Homo sapiens: one gene and its partners. The protein of the gene in region 1 interacts with the protein of each later gene in a pairwise test. Each region holds a gene or a part of one and is shown in the gene's direction. Other genes may lie near its edges.

The links. The genes of interacting proteins can lie anywhere in the genome.
Region 2: the proteins of SREK1 (region 1) and TARBP1 interact in a two-hybrid assay, tested with the Homo sapiens proteins (one study listed by BioGRID).
Region 3: the proteins of SREK1 (region 1) and SH3GLB2 interact in a two-hybrid assay, tested with the Homo sapiens proteins (one study listed by BioGRID).

What each region holds. Positions count from the first base shown.
Region 1 is NC_000005.10:66,139,606-66,147,333, forward strand, and holds the start of SREK1 (splicing regulatory glutamine/lysine-rich protein 1), read left to right. Parts: upstream 1-4,694; 5' UTR 4,695-4,771; coding exon 4,772-4,932; intron 4,933-5,229; exon of another isoform or gene 5,230-5,578; intron 5,579-7,728. UniProt on the Homo sapiens protein: Participates in the regulation of alternative splicing by modulating the activity of other splice facors. Inhibits the splicing activity of SFRS1, SFRS2 and SFRS6. Augments the splicing activity of SFRS3.
Region 2 is NC_000001.11:234,469,146-234,476,179, reverse strand, and holds part of TARBP1 (tRNA (guanosine(18)-2'-O)-methyltransferase TARBP1), read left to right. Parts: intron 1-3,368; coding exon 3,369-3,466; intron 3,467-4,922; coding exon 4,923-4,992; intron 4,993-7,034.
Region 3 is NC_000009.12:129,011,298-129,018,331, reverse strand, and holds part of SH3GLB2 (endophilin-B2), read left to right. Parts: intron 1-2,472; exon of another isoform or gene 2,473-2,592; intron 2,593-3,427; coding exon 3,428-3,561; intron 3,562-3,828; coding exon 3,829-3,921; intron 3,922-5,312; coding exon of another isoform or gene 5,313-5,324; intron 5,325-6,033; coding exon 6,034-6,096; intron 6,097-7,034.

The sequences.
Region 1 (7,728 bases):
AAAACACATTACACATGTGCATGCACACACACACACGCACACTTATGTATGCACAGTTCTCACTCTTTTTCTGATTATTTCTAGGACAACCTATTTAGCTTTCTTCTTAAGAATATAATCAGCACTCCTCTTTCAAACATAAGACTACTTACAGATCTTTCCTTACCTGAAATTACTCCTAAATTATTCTCTACTGTCAAAATTTCCTTTCAGATTCCATAGAGTAGATTCATAGCAGATCCCACTCATTCAAAACCAAAACAAGAAGACTAACAGTCATCAAAGCCTCTTCTTGTAAGTACATCCCACACTTATCTTATATACTTTCCCAGCTCTAGCATTCTCTTCCTGTCCCTGTACACCCCAGAACTGCTCTCTCCAAAGTCACCTCCTGGTTCTCAGTCTAGTAAGTACCTAAAATCTATCATGTACATCTTTCTCTTGGTTTTTTCTGTTGCTGTATTTACTGGGGTTTACTTTTTTGAATTTTTGGTTTCTGGTTGGCTCTTATGGGCCTGAGCCTCCTTGTGAGGAGCTCTTTTTATTTTTTTCACTGAAACTTTGCCATCACTATTCCTATGATGTTGTATTTGAAGGTGTTGGGTTAGCATGCAGATGAAATCAAGAGGCCTGGAGATAAAGAAATAGCTGAAAATTGGAGCCGTGAGAATGATTACAGAGTTTGGAAGCAGAACATGGCATGGAGGTTGGAATTTTAAAATGTATCTCAGAAGTCCATGGTAGAACAGTCACATTGGCCAGAGTGGCAGGGCTGGAACAGGCCCAGGTTTGGTAAGTTTCCCTGAGAGATTTATAGAGGGATACTGTTACCTCTTCTCCACACGAAAGAGTTTGAAACCAGCCTGGGCAGCATAGTGAGACCTCATCTCTATAACAACAACAACAAAAACAACAATACCCCCTAGAGCCAAAACCTTTTTCTTCCTTTAAATTTTGTGACTATCCTCCCTCCCAGTTTTCCTTGGGGCTTGATTTTTTTTTTTTGGCTATTTGTTGTATTTGTCTGTTTAATGTTGTCCACAGCACTTTTCCTGCTACAAACATTCCTGGTGTATCTATATCTCCTCCCAATCTTAAGTCAAGTGCTATATCTTAGTTCTAGACATTTTTCCTAAATTTCATTTCAGAATGTTGTCCATAAGGGATCTCAATATTTTCTGCTCTTTCCTCCCAAAGCTGCTCTTCCTTCATATTTTTGGACCTAAATTATGACACTGTTTACTTAATTCTCCAAGACATAAATCTAAACTCCTCCTTCTGCTTTACTATTAAGAGTAGATTAAGTCCATTAAGAATACTGCTTTTACAACCTTCTAAACCAGTGGTTCTCAACATGGGGTTTGCAGACCACAAGAAGGAGCTCACCTGGGAACTTGTTAGAAATTAAAATTTCAGGCCCCACTCCAGACTTATTGAACTAGAAACTCTGGGGATGGGACCAGCAATTTGTTGTAACATGCCCACGGGCTGATTCTGATGCACACTAAAGTCTGAGAATTGTTCAAAACTAGTTGTTAATCCGAGAGATCTATGGTTGGACTTCAGGAGGACCAGAAAGCATCAGTAATTGTAGCTAAAAGTGAGTTTATGTCCATATATATTTTTCTGAGTGGACAGCTTTTATTCCTTTTATCTTCAAATGAGTTCAGTGATTCTCAAATTTGGGGCTGTTCCTTGCTTTCCATTACTACCACCTCTTACCTTTGTTCATGACCTCATTATAGCTTATTCAGATTATTGCAATAACCTACCCAGTTTCTTTGCCTCTAGTCTGAACCCTTTCCAATGTATCTCCAGGTTGCAGTGACAGTCATCACTTTCTTTCTTTCCTTCCTTCCTTCCTTTCTTTTTTGAGACAGGGTCTTACTCTGTCACTCAGGCTGGAGTGCAGTGGCACAATCACAACTCATTTTCACTGTAGCCTCGAACCCCCAGGCTCAAGCAGTCCTCCCGTCTCAGCCTCCCCAGTAGCTGGGACTACAAGCATGCACCACCATGCCTGGCTACTTTTTTGTTGTTATTGTTTGGTAGAAACGGGGTCTCTCCATGTTGCCCAGGCTGGTCTCAAACTTCTGGGCTCAAGCAATCCTCCTGCCCTAGTCTCCCCAAATCCTGGGATTACAGGCATATGCCACCGCACATAGCCAGTCATTTTAGAACATGAATCTGATCAGGGTCACTCTTCAGCTCCGAGGTCTTCAGTGGCTCCCAGCTTATGATAAAGTAATCTCTACCATGACAAATAATACCCTTCATAAAGGCTTATTCCTTTGCATGCATCTCTAGTCATTTTCAGCCCAGCAATAACAGACTTTGAATCTTCTGTACCTCACTCGAGCTCTCTTTTACCTTAACCCTGCCTTTGCATATTCTACATGCTCAGTCTGGAATGCCCTTCACTGCTCCTCCTTCCCTCCTTGCCTGGGTAATTCCTATTTGTTCAATATTCAGCTTAAGCAATATTTCTTCTGGGAAGTATTCCATTAGAACTAAGTTTAAGAGGCCCTCCTGTGTGCTCTGAATTCCTCCATGCTTATACCTATGGTAATAATAATTCTCAAACATTTTGGTCTTGAGTCCCTTTACATTCTTAAAGATTATTAAGGACTGTAAAATGCTTTTATTACTATCCACATTATAAATTAAACCTGAGAAATTTGGTATTTTGAGATTCATTTAAAAATAATTATAAGCCCATTATGTTAATAGAAATGACGCATTTTTTTCTTAGAAACCGAGATTGAAGGCAAAATGATGCATTTTTATGATAAAATATTTTTCCAAAAAATTGGTGAGAAGAGTGGCATTGTTTTACATTTTTCAAACCTTTTTAATGTCTGCTTTAATAGAAGACAGCTGAATTCTCCTATCTATGTATTCTTTATTTTTTTCCAACTTTTATTGTAGGTCCAGGGGTACATGTGAAGGTTTGTTACATAGATAAATTCATGTCATGGGGGTTTGTTGTACAGATTATTTCATCATCCAGGTATTAAGCCCAGTGCTCAATAATTTTTTCTGCTCCTCTCCCTCCTTCCACCCTCCACCCTCAAGTAGACCACAGTGACTGACGTTTCCTTCTTTGTGATCATGAGTTTTCTGTGTATTCGATCTGTTGTGATATGTTTTGGTTGAAATATATGAGGGAAATCTGATCTCATAAAGATAAGGTGTTGGAAAAGGGAAAACTACTTTATAGCCTTTCCAGATAGTTCTAGATATTATTCTTTGATACGGTACCAAACTTACATGTGGTAGTTTCTTAGCCTTCATTGCAGTGTGGACTGAATCTGAAACCACATCAATTAAGCACTGAAATCCATCAATCTATCTTGCACATACCAGAGGCTTTTTGCCTTTGTAATGGCACCCACTGGCCATTTGAAAAATAGGTGTCCACTAAGTTGTAAAGATCACAAAAATGTTGACATATTTCATTATATAGTCAAAAATAAATTGTTAATATAATGCTTCTTTTACTAGAAAAGTCTTTAAGTACTGGCAAGCTGTCAAGCTCAAGCTGGTGGATACAAGTGTAATAAAATTTGTATTTTTAGGTGAAAATTCAAAGAATTACACTAGTGCTTTTTCCGGAGACAACCATTTCACTTGGGCATGTAGCGGCAGTAGTTTCCATTTTTTCACACATATTCTTTAAAAGACGTGTAAGCAAGGATGGATTTGAAAAAAAAATACAATTTTTAGTTATTTGTGAAGGACATTTTTAAAGTGAAACTAGCATACTTTAAAACCTTAAATGTTGTATGATGTGAAGAATACAAAATGCAACTACCAGTACAAGACTGGCGCCACTGCCTTGATTGCTGCTAAGGTGTCAGCAGTTTAATCTTTTACGTTACCAGTGCAAATGGCAACAAAGTGAAAAAGGTCAAGAAACTCTTAATATTATTACGAAAATCGTTTTGACCTTGCCAACTTACTGAAAAGGTCTCGGTACCCTTAGGGATCTGCGGAGGGCATTTTGGGAGCAGCTGCCATGGACTCACTACTGTTGTCTCTCATTAGGTTGCAAGTTCTATGTGAACTGTCTTTAACTGTCTGTTACGTGCCCTTGCCTAATAGTGCCTGGGACATAGCACTCAATAAACATCAACACCTGTGGAACGAGGGAATTAAAAACAGGTTATAAACAACCCCTGCACAGCCTTCATCTTACTGCCTCTTTCCTTAATTCAACCTGAACCTACGCATTTTGTAAAATTTTGTTTTTTTCACAATTAGGACGCCTGCCAACTTTTAAAAATAGTTGGAGTTGGGGTGCTGCCTGTATGTGATAAGGCTGCCCTATAGTTTGGTCAAGTGTTCTTCCGTGTTGTCCAAGAGTCATTCCTTCTTTACAGTCCCGCACCAGTAGGCCAGGCCGCTTGGTTTCCCAATCCGAGACCGGAAGGAACCGGGTAGACATGAGCACAAGACTCTCATCGACTTTTGGGGAAAACAAAAACACCGATAAAAATCCAGGCGGTGAAACGAGCAGCAACAGCCCCAGGGACCCGGGAGCTGGAGGCCGCAGCCGCGCGAGAACCGCCGGGTTGCCGGGGCGACGCTTCCGGCTGGCGCGCGCAGCCCCGGGAGCAGGGGAGTTGTGAAATGGGCGGCTAGATCTGCCCGGCGCTGTGAATTCGCCAGCGGGAGCGCGCTCGCGGCCGCGCGTTCTCCGCTTTCCCGGCTCCGTCGCTGACGCGTCGTAGACGTTGGGGAGCGGGAAGGCAACGGCAGCGGGATCGGGATGAACAGCGGCGGCGGCTTCGGTTTGGGCTTAGGCTTCGGCCTCACCCCCACGTCGGTGATTCAGGTGACGAATCTGTCGTCGGCGGTGACCAGCGAGCAGATGCGGACGCTTTTTTCCTTCCTAGGAGAAATCGAGGAGCTGCGGCTCTACCCCCCGGAGTAAGTGCTGGAGCTCGGCTGGGGGAGGGGCGCGGGCGCCATAGAGACCTCGGGAGCCGAGGCGTGGAGGAGAGCGCGGACGCGGGCGCGCGGTGCATGTCACGTGATCGCGCCGGCTTACCTTGGTGCCCATATTTGATTAGGGCACCCGGGTTCCGCCGTCCTGCTCTCCTTAGTCGGATTTGGGGGGTTAACTACTGCACGGAGCCCTTACCAAGGATTTAGAATGGTTGCCCTTTCTGTGCCTCCGGGACTTGTGTTCGCTGCTGGGTCTTCGAATTCCGTGCCCCCACCCTCTTATTTCCCCCCGAACTTAAGATGGCCGCAGGTGGGCCCGGAACAGCCCTCATGGCAAACGTCTCAGAGCGTTTTTCCACTCTGAAAATCGCGGAGACCGCGCCTGAGCCACAGTCCAGTTTTTAAGGCCTTGGTGTCAGGCCGTTTTGCTGACGAGAAAGCCTGCTGCTGGTGACAAGATGGAACTGGGGCTGTGTTTGTTTCCCAGGACGGTCGCACAAACTTAGCATTTTGGTTTATCTAACCGAGCGCATCCATGTTCCCAAAGATCATGTCTGTTAGCCCTTTTGACAGCAGATTAAATTTTCCTCCTGAAAGGTCACACTGTCCCAAAGCTTTCAGAAAAAGTGTAAGTCGGTGCAGGGTTATCCCTCCCGTATACATTTAAAGTCCAGATCTTGGCTGGCATTCACAGCTCGCGGCCACTTCCCAGATAGTGTATTTTGGAATGGTAAAATTTCCCTCGTACGATATTATTTAGAAAACTCGCAAGGGGTTTGTAGGTTGTTCACATTCTTGCACACAAACTTTTTTTCTTTTTTAATGGTAGATCTTACAGTATTAAGATCCTCCGTTTTTTGTTCATTATATCAAAATCCTTTGAGGGAAGGGGTAATTGTTACCCAAGATTTATTTCTTTAAAAAAATTTTGATTTATTTCCTAGTGATGCATTTAGACCTATTTTTCTTTAGTTTTCTATCTCAGGTTATAACAGTGCTGTTGCATAACTATATAAAAGTTGTGTGGATATTTAAAATTTACTTTTTAAGTTTTTCTTCTCTGCTTTTTGTTTTGGAATATTTCATGCATACAGAAAAGTTGAAAGAGTAATACATTGAACATCCATGTTCCTTTTACGAGCATTTTGTCTGTTTTTGGCTACAGTTGATTATTAAAATTTCCCCAGTTATTTTAATAATGCTTTTTTGTCTGCTTTTGATCTAGTATGTAATTAGATAACACTGTCTCCCTTGAATATGCCAAGTAATCCATGTATTAATAGTTATCTCCTTTAATCTAGGACAGTCCCGTCCCCTTTTAAAGATTCTAAAGTCGTGACATTGATATTTTGTTTTGTAGTTCATTTTGTCTTGTAATATGACTCATAATCTGAGTTTATATAGATGAGATATATAGATGAGGTATATAGAGATATGTGTATATATATATCTTTATATTCGTGACGAGATTCAGGTAATACATTTTTGACGAGAATACTGCATAAGTGCACGCACGTACATTTTGATTGATTAACCGTGGCATTATTGCTTTAATTATCTTAACTTTTGGAAATGCTTTCAGCCATCTCAATTTAAGTTCTCAGAACATTTCTTAATAGTTGAGAATAATTGAGAATTGTTTGGGGGAGTGCCGTATCCTGCAGGCATTGGAATCAATCAGTAAAATACTTTGTACATGAACCTTTGTAAATCTTGCTTTCAAGGCTGTGGTAATAAGGTATCTCATAGGTAGAAGAAATATATTGGAGAATGTTCTTCATTATCAACATAATATTTATTTGGTTGAAACCTGGGTTTGGGTGACAACACATTGCCATAACTGACAGTAATGGGCCACTTTTTTGAAATCAGATGTTATTACTTGGAATTTAAAAGTCAAAGAGAATAAAAAGTTCTTCACTTAAACATATGGAAGATTACGGTAGTGTATTTCACAAACTGTAACACATTAAGCAAAATTGTTGCATACGTGTAATATATATAGGCCAGGCAAAATCCTTAACTAGTTTTTCCCTAAGTGCAATACTAGATCCCTCATTCATGTTTTGCAGCAATACTGACATGCTTTATTCACAGGTTTTCTGCTTCGTAATGAAGTTGTCATTGCCTGGTCCTTATATTAGAAGACGTGTTTGCAAATTTGGACTGAAATGGATACAAAATGCAATAGTAGTAGTTGTATTGAAAATATATTGTTTTGCAGTGTCACATAAATTATTTTATGACATCTTTAGAGTTGAGTAGAAATTTAAATTGTTTTAAAATTGGAAATATATTTATTTTCAAATACATATTTCCAGGTATATTGGAAATACATTAATAGAATGTGAAAATAGTTTCTCATTAAAATTTTATGATTGAGCCAGGTGTGGTGGTGTGCACCTATAGTCCTAGCTACTCAGGAGGCTGAGGTGGGAGAACAGCTTGAGCCCAGGAGTTTGATTCCAACCTGAGTAACATATTGAGACCCCTATCTCTTAAAAAAAAATGACTTAAATGACTTAAGTTGCTAATATGAAAATTCAGATTTTAAATTTAATTCTTTTGGCATGATGCAGTGGTTGAGTTTCATCTTTATCTTTTAAACGTTAAGAATTTTTTAAGGCTAGGGAATTCTTGTGAACATTCACTGTAAGCATTAAGAATTCTTATTTGTAGTTTGTCATCCTTTTTTTGTGCTGCCAGTTGATAAATATGTAGAATTACTATTAACTTTTTGCACAATAAATCAATCTCACAGCTTGTGAAACTTTCTTA
Region 2 (7,034 bases), on another chromosome or scaffold:
CCCCATCTGCTCATCTGTTTATGCATATTGTTTACCTTTTCCACAAGATCCTTTAGCATATCAATTATAGTTATCTGCAAGTTCGATACCTGGACCATCTAAGTTTGGCTTTGTTTTCTGTTGTAGTGTTTGGCTATGGAGTCGCTTTTTTTTATGTCTTACTATAATAACAGTAGAGATGGAAGTAAATATTTCTGCCTGGGATAGGCACCGTTACTTTGTGGCATTGAGTTAGTCTAGTTTGTAGTTGAGCTGGGTTTGGCGTTGGTTGCTGTATTTGTTTTCAGTGCACTTTACAAACTTTTCCCAGATTTTGTGGCTACTTGCTTAGCTGAAGCCTGGAGTCTCGAAAGGTTTTTCTCCAGCCTGGGAGGCCTGTGCCACCGATGGAGGTCTTCAGCCAAGGCTTCGTCCCTCCCTCAGGGGTAGACTGCTGATGCTTGTTCCCTGGTGCAAGAGATGAGGCAGGGGCTTTTCATTTCTTCCACTGCAGCCTTGTATTTAGGCCCCATGTGTCTGAGCGTCAGCATTCCTGCTCTTTCGCTGTCTGTGCTCCCTCTCCAGTGGCAATAATCGTTGCCTCCAACTTAGGGGTGCGTTTAGGTTCCTGGCCCTAACCTGTGGCAGCTGCATTCTGCGTGAGTGTCTGTGGTAGGTCTTGGGTGTAGCGTCCTGCCCTCCTCCAGCACCTGCAGACCAGCTTTGTATCAGTGCAGGATATCTGGCAGTAGGGGGTTTGCTTCCCCTTCCACAGAATAAGATGCATTCGCCTAGTGTCAGTGCCGAGTGAAGGGAGCAGGTTCTATCCCTGCCCTAGAGGCAGGCAACTTTTGCTTGTATCAAGGCAGGGACAAGGGTGAGAGTGTGGGAGGGGCAGACAGCTTTGGCTTCCTGTCGGAGAAGGGTCCAGGGGGACAGGCACGTTTTGGCAGTTGATCACCATCTTGTACTCCTGCAGGGCATGGCTGGGCCTCTCTAGTTAGTCCTGCTGCCCTGGGTGCCTGCGCCTCTGAAGATCTCCTGCCCTGGCCACAGTCTCTCTCGAGAGCACCGGGGCAGGCTTGAAGAAAAGAGCTGGTGAATGGATGTGGACTCCCTCAGCAAGCTGTGAGGCTAGCCCACCTTGGTCTTTAAAAACTTGTCAAAATGCCATTTTTAAAACTGCTTTTTGGGTGACCATGTCTTGCTCCTGTGCCAGAAGTAGAACAGATAAGTGGCCTTTCCATTCTTGGAGCGCCTTCCTTCCTTTTAGAATTCAGGTTGCATTGTGACCTCAGTTCTGATGCTCCCCCCACCCACCGCACAACAGTTTAGGATTTTGTAGATTTTTCAGCCTTTCCTCTTTGTATGACAATAACGATCTCCTATGGTTTTCTATGTCCTAATGAGCAACTGAAACGATACATATCTAAATGCCTTTATTTTGTCCTCATATTTCATTGATGGTTTGACTGAGGGTAGAATTCGAGCCTGGAAGATATTTCCATTCAAAATTTTAAAGGTATCTATCTATTGTCCCAGAAGCTAGAGCTTCCAGTATTGCTGTTGAGAAATCTGAAACCATTCTGAATCCTGTTTATTTATACAGGAACTGTTTCTCTCTATGGAAGTGTGTAGGATCAGTGGCTCTAGCATTCTGAAATTTCACAGTTTTGATAGGAGTCTATTTTCATCCTTGTGCTGGGCACTTGCTGGACCTCCTGTGCAATCTGGAAATCATGTTCTTCAGTTCTGGGAAATTTTCTAGAATATTCTGTGGATTATTTCGTCCCTTTCTGTTTTCTGTTCTTTTTTTAGATATTGAACTTCCTGGACTTTCTTGAAAGCATCTTTTCTCTCCTAAGGATTTTCTATGATTTTGGATTGAGTTTTTTTTTTTAAATGTCCCCTTTGTGTGTGTGTGTGTGTGTGTGTGTGTGTGTGTGTGTGTGTGTTTTAGAGACAAATCCTCGCTCTTGCCCAGGCTAGGGTGCAGTGGCGTGATTATAGCTCACTATAACTTCAAAATACTGGGCTCAAGTGATCCTCTCATCTCAGCCTCCAGAGAAGCTGGGACGATAGGTGTGCACCACCATGCCCTGATAATTTTTTAAATTTCCTTGTAGAGACAGGGTCTTGCTATGTTGTACCAGGCTGGTCTCAAGCTCCTGGCCTCAAGCAATCCTCCTGCCTCAGCCTCCCAAAGTGTTGGGATTACAGGCATGAGCCACCAAGCCTGGTCAGAATGTCCCCTTTTTAATAATATCCTGTTCTTATAATACTACTATCTTCTTAAGATATTGCTGAAAACTCTTTTAAAAGTTTTCTTCTACCTGTGTAATTTTGTTTTCTCCAATTTCCTCCTCCCACTCCATTTGTTTTGGTCTTGATCTTTAGTGTAGAGGTTTCCCCAACTGTCTGATGATTCTTAGATCCCTATTTATGTTTAAGGATAAGAAATCAAAATTGGGTTTAAAGCTCTAAGCCCATGAGTGGTGCTGTTGACTGAACTTCACCATAAGGTGATTTGGCCAAGCCATTTCATTAAGGAATCTCTGATATATTTTCAGATCTTTCCTCCTGGGCTGGCCAGATTCTGCAGAGAACATCTTCCAGTTGTCTGATGCATAGTGAGGGCCTGGCCAGCATTCTAGGACCTGAGGGGGCAGGTAGAGAGGAGTCGCAGCACCCAGGGTGCACACATGTTCGCTGAATCCCCTTTGTCAGTAGGACTAATGTCTGCTGTGTCCTGTGCCTCCCAATTCAGAGACGCACTATTTTACCTTCTCCAGAAAAGCAGTTCTAGTCTTTTCCTGTTCAGGACATAGGAAAGTGGCCTGGGGATGTGACTGTTTCTTAAACACTGAACACATCCTCTTTGGTTTAGCCTCACTTTTCACTCCACTTACCAGAGTAACTTTTGCAGCCACTTCCTTTGGTTCCGGGGGATTTTGCAGCATAAATCAAATTGTTTCCTGGCTTTCCCTTTGTCAACTTAAAATTCTCATGACTTGAGTCAACTTGGTTTTCATCTGATTTTCAGATTCTGTATTTTATTGCTGTTGTCTGCCCCCAGTGTTCTCCATTCTTTTGGGGTTTTGCCCTTGAAAAATCCTTTACTGTTATAGTGAGATTCTTAGGGAGAGAAAGTAGAGTTTATATGTGCAAATCTGCCATTTTTACCCAGAACTCCAAAACAGTAATCTTAGTGCAAAAAAAAATCTCCCTCTGAGATTCCCAAGCCCCCTATCCAGGCTCTGATACAGGGGCACCTCCATTATTAGAGAATCCATTTGGTAATAGTGGCATTATTTTAAGAACTGCTGTCATTGAGAAACTTATGAAATTTGCAAAAGGAAGAACTAATTTTCTTTTTTAAACCATATCAGGCCCAAGTCTGTTTTGGTGGTCTGAGAGGAAAAAAGATGAGCTTCTAAAGTTTTGGGAAAATTATATTTTAATTATGGAGACTTTAGAAGGAAATCAGGTAAGTGTTTTTCTATTTTAGCAAATCCTACAGTAGATAACAATTTTTCTTTTTTAAAAACATTCATTAAAAGCGATACAAAGAGACTAACTCAGATATAGCTGGTGATGATAGAATCCAAGTATACTTTGTTGTCTGGCATAAATGCAACTTAGAGTGTAAGTTGTTTCAGGAAGTTAAAGAATACTTTCAGTTGACAAATTATTCAAAAATTTGATCTTCCCTTGCCATTCTAAAACTTTAACGTTTATCAGTATCAGTATCACCCAAATGGCTTATTATAAAGTATAAATTGCCATGCCCTGTCCTCAGACTTTCTGGTTCAGTAGGTCGGGGTGGGGCCTGGGACTTTTGAGTTTTTTTTTTTTTTTTTTTTTTTTTTTTGGAGACAGAGTCTTGCTCTCTCGCCCAGGCTGGGGTTCAGTGGCACGATCTCAGCTCACTGCAACATCCGCCTCCTGGGTTCAAGTGATTCTCCTGCCTCAGCCTCCCAAGTAGCTGGGACTACAGCCACGACACTGGCTAATTTTTGTATTTTTAGTAGAGATGGGGTTCCACCATGTTGGCCAGGCTGGTCTTGCACTCCTGACCTCAAGTAATCCACCCGCCTTGGCCTCCCAAAGTGCTGGGATTACAGGCGTGAGCCACCGCACCCGTCCAGGACTTTTGAGTTTTTTACAAGTTCCCAGGTGATATGTATGCTGCTGTTCTGGGAACTACACTTTGAGAACCATGGTTTCCATTCTGCAAGTTGGGGACCACAGAGGTGCCAGCCATCTGTGGAGTCATTGTGAGGTGTCAATCCAAATGTGCACCAAACCTTGTTTGTGGACTTAAATAATTACTTATATGTGCTAAATATATATAGATGCAAGGATGAGGAGTAAAGAAAAAGCATTTCTAAATTCAAATTAACTTTTATGGTTTTCTTTAATCAGTAGATCCATAAAACCCCCATTATTTATTTAGAAACCCAAATTTATCCATATTTTGAAGGATATGTAAATTAATCTCAAGCAAACGTGTCAGCAACTTTGGCTATGTGGTATTAAGAACATGGAACTCCGAACTGGCCGTTCTAAGCGTGTGCAGCCATGAACAACTTGAGTGACTAGAGAAAACATTTCAGTGTCTTTTTTCTCTTTGTAATATCTTAGTATTGGCAGTCCTACCTGCCTGCCAGGACAGTTGAGGATTCTATGACATGATTTATGATAATCACTGTATAAATGGTAGACTTTAATGTAGCTGTAATGTGGTTATATTCATTAGCTTTGCCATACTCAGTCTTACATACCTGAATCATACTATTGTTTGAAAAACTGGATAAATCAGGCTCTTTCTACATATGTTTTGTAGAAACAGAAGAGCTACTGTGAAATAAAGAGATGAAAATTGCCTGACATTTTTCAAGATGCATTTTCATTTCATATGATTTTTTTGCTCTTATTTTTAGATACATGTTATAAAGCCAGTTTTACCAAAGCTAAACAATCTGTTTGAATATGCGGTGTCAGAGGAAAATGGTAACGATTACTTTTATTTTATTTTTTAATAACATTTATGGTTTTCCCCTGATTTTGTAACTAATTCCTGTTCATTGTAGAGAATTTTGAAAAACTATAAAAGTGTACAGAAGAAAATATAATCATCTTGTAATGCTGCCACCAAGAGATAACAGTTGTTACCATTCCAGATACACACCTTCTGGATCATGTTGTTCATGTTTATCTCACTTAGCATAATAACTATATGCATCTACTCATATCCTTAAATCGTCTTTAAGAGCACAATTTTGGGCCAGGCGTGGTGGCTTATGCCTGTAATCCCAGCACTTTGGGAGGCAGAGGTGGGCGGATCACCTGAGGTCAGGAGTTCAAGACCAGCCTGGCCAACATAGTGAAACTCCGTCTCTACTAAAAATACAAAAATTAGCCAGGCATGGTGGTGTGTGCCTGTAGTCCCAGCTACTCGAGAGGCTGAGGCAAGAGAATCACTCGAATCCAGGAGGCGGAGGTTGCAGTGAGCCAAGATCACACTGCTGCACTCCAGGCTGGTGACAGAGCAAGACTCCGTCTCAAAAAAAAAAAAAAGAACACAATTTAAAATAGCCACAGAATTTTCTACAATTAAGAGATAAGGTTAATTTTTTAAACCGTTGATGATGGAGAATTTCAAACATTTATAGAATGAGAAGAGTGTGTGTGACGCACCTACCACCCTCTTTAATAACGATCGTCTCACGGCCAGCCTTGCTTAGTGTATCCTATGTAGCCTTCCCTGTTCCCTTCTTGCTAAATGGTTTTGAAGCACATCCCTAGATATCCTATCATTTTATCTGTGAATATTTCAGCACATTTCTTTAAAAGATAAGGACTCGTCGATAGGGTTTCAATGATGACATAGTCTGTGGTTTTAATAATTGCTCTTTTTTTTTGTTTTTGAGATGTGGAGTCTTGCAATCTGTTGCCCAGGCTGGAGTGCAGTGGGATGATCTCGGCTCACTGCAACCTCTGCTTCCCGGGTTCAGGCAATTTTTTTGCCTCGGCCTCCCAAGCAGCTGAGATTACAGGCATGCGCCACCACACCTGGCTAATTTTTGTATTTTTAGTAGAGACGGGGTTTTGCCACGTTGGCCAGGCTGGTCTCAAACTCCTAACCTCAGGTGATCCACCTGCCTCAGCCTCCCAAAGTGCTGGGATTACAGGTGTGAGCCACCGTGCCTGGCCAATAATCACTCTTTGGTATGAATATATCTTTTTAACTGGTTTCCATTCTTATTCTCTTAGTATATCTTTTCCAGTGTTTCTTAAGTTTTCAGTTATTGTTCTGTATCTTGTACTTCTTAGGAAGAGAAAATTCCGGGATATAATTTCAAATGTGTTTATAAGCCCTTGATCACTATATTATGAGAGCTTTTTAGGAGATACACAATGAAGCTGGAGCTTCCTAAATGTATTTTATAAAATTAAGTTTAATGAAATAGCTAAATGCAGCCCAATAGTGTTTTGGCCTGTGTTCATATGAATGATAAAATGCCACATTATTGTGTTTACACATGAGAATTAACCTAGGTAAATGGTTTTTAGTGCCTACTCTAGATAATTACAGTTTAATAGTTTGACCCCTTAGGAATTGAGCTTTATTCAGCTGATTGCTGTAGTTGTTTTCTGATACACTGGGATTTTTCACAGACCATAAGCATCTGTAGTTGCACCTGGGGCTAGAATTTAATTGAATCTTGTTGTGACTTCACTTATTCATTTACCATTAAAATGATGCTCTTATTACCACATTTTGCCCACAGCTCTTGAGAAACCAAATCAAATAGCAGTGACTGATTTTGAAAAATTACCATTGCCAAAGAGTTGAACAAGCATCTTGGTGTAAATTACAAATAATGGATTAATTTATTTATAGAATGTCATGAGTTAAAAATGCTGAGTATTTTTCTCTAATAGAAGTAAAAGATATTTCAAAAGAGTTAGAAAAATATCTCTAAGATATTTATTTATTCCATGGTTTTGATTTGCTCACTCATTTATATATTTACTGAATAAATATTTAC
Region 3 (7,034 bases), on another chromosome or scaffold:
TGCTGGGATTACAGGCGTGAGCCACTGCGCCCAGCCAATTTAATTTAACTTTTTAAGAAGTTGCCAAACTGTTTTCCAAAGTAGCTGTATGATTTTTTTATTCCTGTCAGTAGTGTGTTGTTTCATTTTCAGATATTTGTGGATTTTCTGGGTTTTCTTCTATTGTTGCTTTTAACTTAATTCCACTGCGATCAGAGAATGTATGAACATGTCGTGCTATGTTAGTATTATTATTATTTTGAGATGGAGTCTCGCTCTGTCGCCCAGGCTGGAGTGCAATGGTGCCATCTGGGCTCACTGCAAGCTCCACTTCCCAGGTTCAAGGGATCCTCCACCTCAGCCTCTCAGCCTTCTGAGTAGCTGAGATTACAGGCACGCACCATCACGCACCTATAATCACACCCAGCTAATTTTTTTTTTTTTTTTTTTTGTTTGAGACGGAATCTCGCTCTGTCGCCCAGGCTGGAGTGCAGTGGCACGATCTCGGCTCACTGCAACCTCCGCCTCTCGTGTTCATGCCATTCTCCTGCCTCAGCCTCCCAAGTAGCTGGGACTACAGGCACCTGCCACCATGCCAGGCTAATTTTTTTTTTTTTCAGTGGAGACGGGATTTCACCGTGTTAGCCAGGATAGTCGATCTCCTGACCTCGTGATCCACCCACCTTGGCCTCCCAGAGTGCTGGGATTACAGGTGTGAGCCATCACACCCGGCGTATTTTTTGTATTTTTAATAGAGATGGGGGTCTCACCATGTTGGCCAGGCTGGTCTCAAACTCCTGATCTCAAGTGATCCGCCTGCCTTAGCCTCCCAAAGTGCTGGGATTACAGGCATGAGCCAGCACACCCAGCCTCATATTTTTATTGTTTTAATCCTTTTAAATTTATTGAGACTTGTTTCATGACCTAGTATATGGTCTATCTGGGGAATGTCCTAGGTTCACTTGAGAAGATGTGATATTATGCTGTTGAGGGTGCAGTGCTGTATAGGTGTCAGCGAGGCCACATCGGTTAATAGTGTTCAAGGCTTGTATGTCCTTGCTGATTTTGTCTTGTCCTATTCATTATCAAGAGTAGACTATTGAGGCTGGGCATGGTGGCTCACACCTGTAATCCCGCCACTTTGGGAGGTCAAAGTGGTTGGATCACCTGAGGTCAGGAGTTCAAGACCAGCCTGGCCAACATGGTGAAATCCTGTCTCTACTAAAAATACAAAAAAATTAGCTGGGCATGCTGGTGCGCGCCTATAGTCCCAGCTACTTGGGAGGCTGAGGCAGGAGAATTGCTGGAACCCGGGAGGCGTAGGTTGCAGCGAGCCAAGAGCGCGCCACTGCACTCCAGCCTGGGAGACAGAGTGAGACCAAAAAAAAAAAAAAAAAAAAAGAGCAGAGTATTCAAGTTTCCAACTATTACTGTTGAATTATCTTATTTCTCTCTTTGTCAGTGTTTGCCTTATGTATTTTGGAACTGTCTTAGGTCTGTATGTTTATATTTGTGCATCTTCCTGATGAATTGACTCTTTCATTATAAAATACTATTCTTTGTCTCTAGTACTATTTTGTGTTAAAGTCTATTTTGTCTGGTAGTAGTATAGCCACGTTAACTCTCTCGTGGTTACTGCATACATGGTGTACTTTTTTCAGCCCATTCATGTCTTTAAATTTAAAGTGTATCTTTGGATTTTTTTTTTTTTCTGTCACCCAGGCGGGAGTGCAGTGGTGCGATCTTGGTTCACTGCGACCTCCACCTCCCGGTTTCAAGCGATTATCCTACCTCAGCCTCCTGAGTAGCTGGGATTACAGGTGCTTGCCACCACGCCTGGCTAATTTTTGTATTTTTAGTAGAGACAGGTTTCACCAAGTTGGTTAGGCTGGTCTTGAACTCCTGACCTCATGATCCGCCTGCCTCAGCCTTCCAAAGTGCTGGGATTACAGGTGTGAGCCACCGCACCCGGCCGTATCTTTTTTTTTTTTTTTTTTTTTTTTTTTTTTTAAAGACAGTCTTGCTCTTGTTGCCCAGGCTGGAGTACAGTGGTGTGACGTTGGCTCACTGCAACCTCTGCCTCCTGGGTTCAAGCAATTCTCCTGCCTCAGTCTCCCAAGTAGCTGGAATTACAGATGCACACCACCACACCCAGCTAATTTTTGTATTTTTAGTAGAGACGAGGTTTTGCCATGTTGTCCAGGTTGGTCTCGAACTCCTGACCTCAAGTGACCCACCCACTTTAGCCTCCCAAAGTGCTAGAATTACAGGCGTGAGCCACTGCGCCCGGCCTTGCCTTCACTTTTGAAGGATTGTTTTGCTATATATAGAATTCCTGGATGAACAATTTTTTCTTTACTTTGAATATATTATCTTACTGCTGTCTGGCTTCTATTGTTTCTAATGAGAAGACAATTCATCTTATTTTAGCTCTCTTGTATGTGATGAATCAAACCATGTTTTTTCTTTTCTTTTCTTTTTTTTAAAGACAGGATCTTGCTGTGTCACCCAGACTGGAGTGCAGTGGTGCAATCATAGCTTACTACTATAGCCTCAAACTCCTGGGTTCAAATGATCCTTCCGCCTGGGCCTCCCAGAGTATTGGGATTACAGGTGTGAGCCAGCGCGCCCAGCCTCTTATTGTTTCTTCACATATTTTTTCTGCCTTATTTTCTCCTCCTCTTCTGGGACTCTTGTTAGTCATATGTTGGTTCACTTGACAGTGCCCCGTAGGTGCTGAGGCGCTGCTCATTTTTCTTATGATTTTCTATTTATTTTTTATAAAGACAAGGTTTTGCCATGTTGCCCGGGCTGGTCTTGAACAGCTGGGTTCAAGCAGTCTGCCCACCTTGGTTTTCCAAAGTGCTGAGATTACAGGTGTGAGCCACAGCATCCAGCCCAGTAGTTTTTCTTGATTAAATGCTTTTCAATTTGTTTTTTGCCTTGGTCAATTTGCAGAGTCCAGAAATGGATGTTTTTGACAATTGTGTCCAGTTTTCTTTCAATTTGTTTTATTTTCAAAGAGATAAGGTCTCCCTATGTTGCCCAGGGTGGTCTGGAACTGCCGAGCTCAAGTGATCCTCCCGTCTCGGCCTCCCAGAGTGCTAGGATTATAGGTGTGAGCCACCGCACCTGGCGTGGTGTCCAGTTTTATTGTTACTTTTTTTGGGAGGGGATTTGTTGAGCTCCTTTCTCTGACATTCTGGAAGTCTAACCCCGATCTTTATAATGGCTGCATTGTGTTCCATATTTTGGCTGTCCCATTGTTTATTTGTTAGTTCCCAGTTGATGGTGTAGTGTAGGTTGCTTCTGCTTTTTCCCAGGCAAAGCATTCTGCACTGAGCACCCCGGCCCTTGCTCTTCAGCAAGCTCTTCCTGAGCCCTCTCCTGTAGATCAGAGTAGCCTGAGCCTGACCTTCTTCCTCACGCTTCAACTCTGTTTTCTCAGGGAAGACACTGATCAAGGTGGCAGAAGCTGAAAAGCAACTGGGAGCCGCGGAGAGGGATTTTATCCACACGGCCTCCATCAGCTTCCTCACACCCTTGCGCAACTTCCTGGAGGGGGACTGGAAGACCATCTCGGTGAGGGCCCTGGGACTATTCCGCTTCCTGGTAACCATGGCAGTTCCCTCCTCAGAGCCTTTGAGTACAGGCTCTCTTCCAGTGCTGGGGCTACAAAACTCCTGAGGCCTCCCCAGAGAGGGCTCCTTTGGACTGAGTGACCTCCTATCTCTGGGCCTCAGTTTCCCTATCTTGACTTGATCGTCCCCGGCACCAATCTTGCCATGCATGGCTCAGGGTCTCCCAGGGCAGCCCAGGGTCTCACTGTCCCCATGCCCTGCCCTGTAGAAGGAGAGGCGGCTCCTCCAAAACCGGCGTCTGGACTTGGATGCCTGCAAAGCGAGGCTGAAGAAGGCCAAGGCTGCAGAAGCCAAAGCCACGGTAGGTGTCCCCGCTCCCCGCTGGCCTCCTGGCCCAGGCTCTGGCTGGAGCCAAGGGGTGGTGGCATGAAGGGACCTGGTATTTGGCATGACCTCTCTCCCCTCTCCCTGGCTGGAGATGCCTGGCTGGGGGCTGCTGGGCTGAGCCTCTCTGTCCCTGCCCTCAAGGGAGCCTTGGTGGCCCCCGAGCTCTGGTTCCCAGGGAGATATCTACGGTGTGGGCGGACCAGCAGTGCCCCCAGCTGGGTGCACCACCCCGCCAGGCAGCTGGAGTCTCCTGCATGCCCTGCCCTGCCCTCCTAGATGCTCGGCTCTGTCCCCGGCTCTGCCCGGGCATGGCACCTTCTTACTAACTCTACTACTTGCTGCTTGAACGTCAGGCCGAGGGTCCCTGTGCTCAGGCGCCCCCACGATGGTGTGGAAAACCTGGGAGCTGGACCGCCCGCTTGCTCAGGGCCGTGTCCGAGGGGTCCCATGAGATTGGATAGGGCCTGGGCCATCTGGCGCCCCCTTCACTCCCAGCTCACTGAGGCCTGTTCAGCCTGGCTGGGTCAATGGGACGCAGCCTGGGACAGTGTGCCCAGGGCGAGGCCAGGATTGGAGGAGCTGGGCCCAAGGGTGAACACCCTCCTGGCACAAGAGGTTGCTCAGGGCTGCCAGGCCTAAAGGCTGCCTCATACCTTGCAGAGGGAACTCCCAGGCCCAGGCCTACTAGGGAGATGGCTACCTGTGGCTGCCAGCTGATTAGCCGAGGGAGGCCAGGCCTAGCCTGGGCTCACAGCTGCCCATGCACCTTGCGTTCCCCTCCCATAGTGTGGCCCCAGAGCCAGCACTGCCCCTGGCGAGAACCGTCTCAGGTCACTCAAGTGTGTGGGGTCTAGATCAGAGGCAGGGGTGTAGTTGTTTCAATCTTGGGGTTGGCTAGGGTGACCTGTGCCTATTGGGATGACCTCTTCTAAGGCACCTGAACAGGACAGTCTCCCCCGTCACTTCGGGCCAGACACCGTCTCTGGAGTAACTCAGCCAGAACACACTCTCTCCATCAGCCAGGCCAGAGGAGCCTTTCCTGTCATTGCAGTGGTGTGGCCTCTCCCTCACCTGGTGGGCCTGGACAACCTCACATCCTGGGGTTGGGCCAGGCCACCTTTCCAGAGCTAGGACTTGGGCAGCCCCAGGAACAGCATTCCAGAGGACTCAAGCTCCACAGCTCTGTCCCCATAAGCACGCACACGTTAGGACTCTTCAGGAGGGCAGGCTGTGGTGCCTCCCTCCGCCCGACCGCCTGGTGTCCCCTCCCACTGGGGCCTGGGGGGCCTGCTCCTGCCTGCGCTGTGGACTCACTAACTCTTTGTTTTTGTTCCTTTCCGTCCTGCTTTGGGTAACTTGGCTCAGTGTGAGGGAGATGTGAGTATACCTGTCCCACGCGCTGTGCTGCTTCCGGTCTGCCCATCTTGCCCGTGGACCCACGGTGCCATGGCCAGCCCACGTCCTTGGGGCATTTTGCAAGCAGCTGGTCTCCCCGCCAGAGCCTCTACTGTGCAGGGCCTCTGGTTTAGGGGGGGATGCCAGGCGTTGGGGCCTGTGAGTCAGCTTTTTGCAAATGTTGGACGCCTGTCACTCTGTCTGCCCATGCATCCATCTGTCCACCTTCATTGTCGGGAGGGGCCTGGCCCTTGATGCAGGAGCAAGAGATGTGGTGTGCGGATTCTGGGATGGAAAAAGCCATCCCAGTTGGGGGTGGGCTGTGTTTGCGGGACCCTGGGGCATCTGAGTGCCACTGGTCTGGGGAGGAGGGGGCTGTGGCCCCTGGCAGGGGAGAGCCCAGCCTGTGACTTGCTCAGGCAGCCTCGGCCATCTCCTCACCGCATTTGCTCTCCTGAGCTCCAGTGCCTGCAGCCACTTGATCTTTGTCTGGACTCTCCAAGTCCCTAGGCCCCTCATCTCCAGGTGGTTGGAGTCGGGAGAAGGGGGTTTGTGTTGTGTTTGTATCCCCGTCCCTGGGGTCAGGCCTCTTGGCATCTCCTTGTGCAAGACTCTGGGGTAGCCTCCTGACCTCGACCCTGGCCCTGGCCCAGGGTGACCCCCTCCCCACATGAACTCTGTTCCCCGCCAGACGGTGCCTGACTTTCAGGAGACTAGACCTCGTAATTACATTCTCTCGGCCAGCGCCTCCGCGGTAAGCGCACCCCACCCCCACCCCACCCCTCGTCCTCCTCTCTCCCCACGTCCCACACCACTGCCTCTGACTGCACAGGAGCTAGAAGCCAGCTTGGGTAAGGCGGGGGCACTGCCATGTGATCAGGTCAGTCCTGAGACACTGGGGAGGGGCAGCAGCCCCCACCTCTGTCCACGGCCTGGCCCCGGTGCCCTGTGGCCATGGAGCTGGACTTGTTTCCCTCTGCAAAACGCTGGAGCTGGCGGCAGGGCCAGCCACACTGAGTAGTGTGGAGAACTCAGGGCGGCAGCTGTCCCATCCCCAGGGCCCCTCCACCTCCTGCTGTCTCTGAATGCCAGGCCCTGGGGAGGCCCTGAGGATAGAGGAGGAGGCCTGGCCGTGCCTTTCTGGAGTTCACAGACCCCTAAAGACAGGAGGCAGGGATGGCGTCGTAGGCCTGGAGAGCGCCTGGGGGGCGGGAGGGCCTGAGGCTGTGCTTAAGGCCCAGAGGTCCTGGAGCAGGGCATGTCTTGTCCTGAGGCTTAGGCAGGGCCCCCAGGGGAGTTGGGGCAGGAGGTGGGGAGGACAGGATCGTGGAGGCTTCGCATGTCATGGTGTCTGTTGGTTTTTAGGCTTTCTTGGGAAGTCTGGTGTTTCCTATGTAGTTTGGGGACTAGGCCACACCTCTCCCTCATGCTTGTCACCACTGCTACACCTTGTCTGCCCACTTTCTCTCCTTCCCGCCCCTGGAGGTGAGACCCTCACCTCTCTCGTGAGCATGCTGCCTCATGTCTTCCGTGCCGTCGTTCTGTGGCTGGGTGACTGTCCCTCAGGCCGCCAACCCTAGTTGGCTCTCACAGCAACTTCCAGTGCTCCTGGACGGGGACTTCCTAAGCAGCATGGGGGCCACACGGGCCGGCCACGCACACTGGCCTGGGTCCGCATTCCCTATTTCAGGC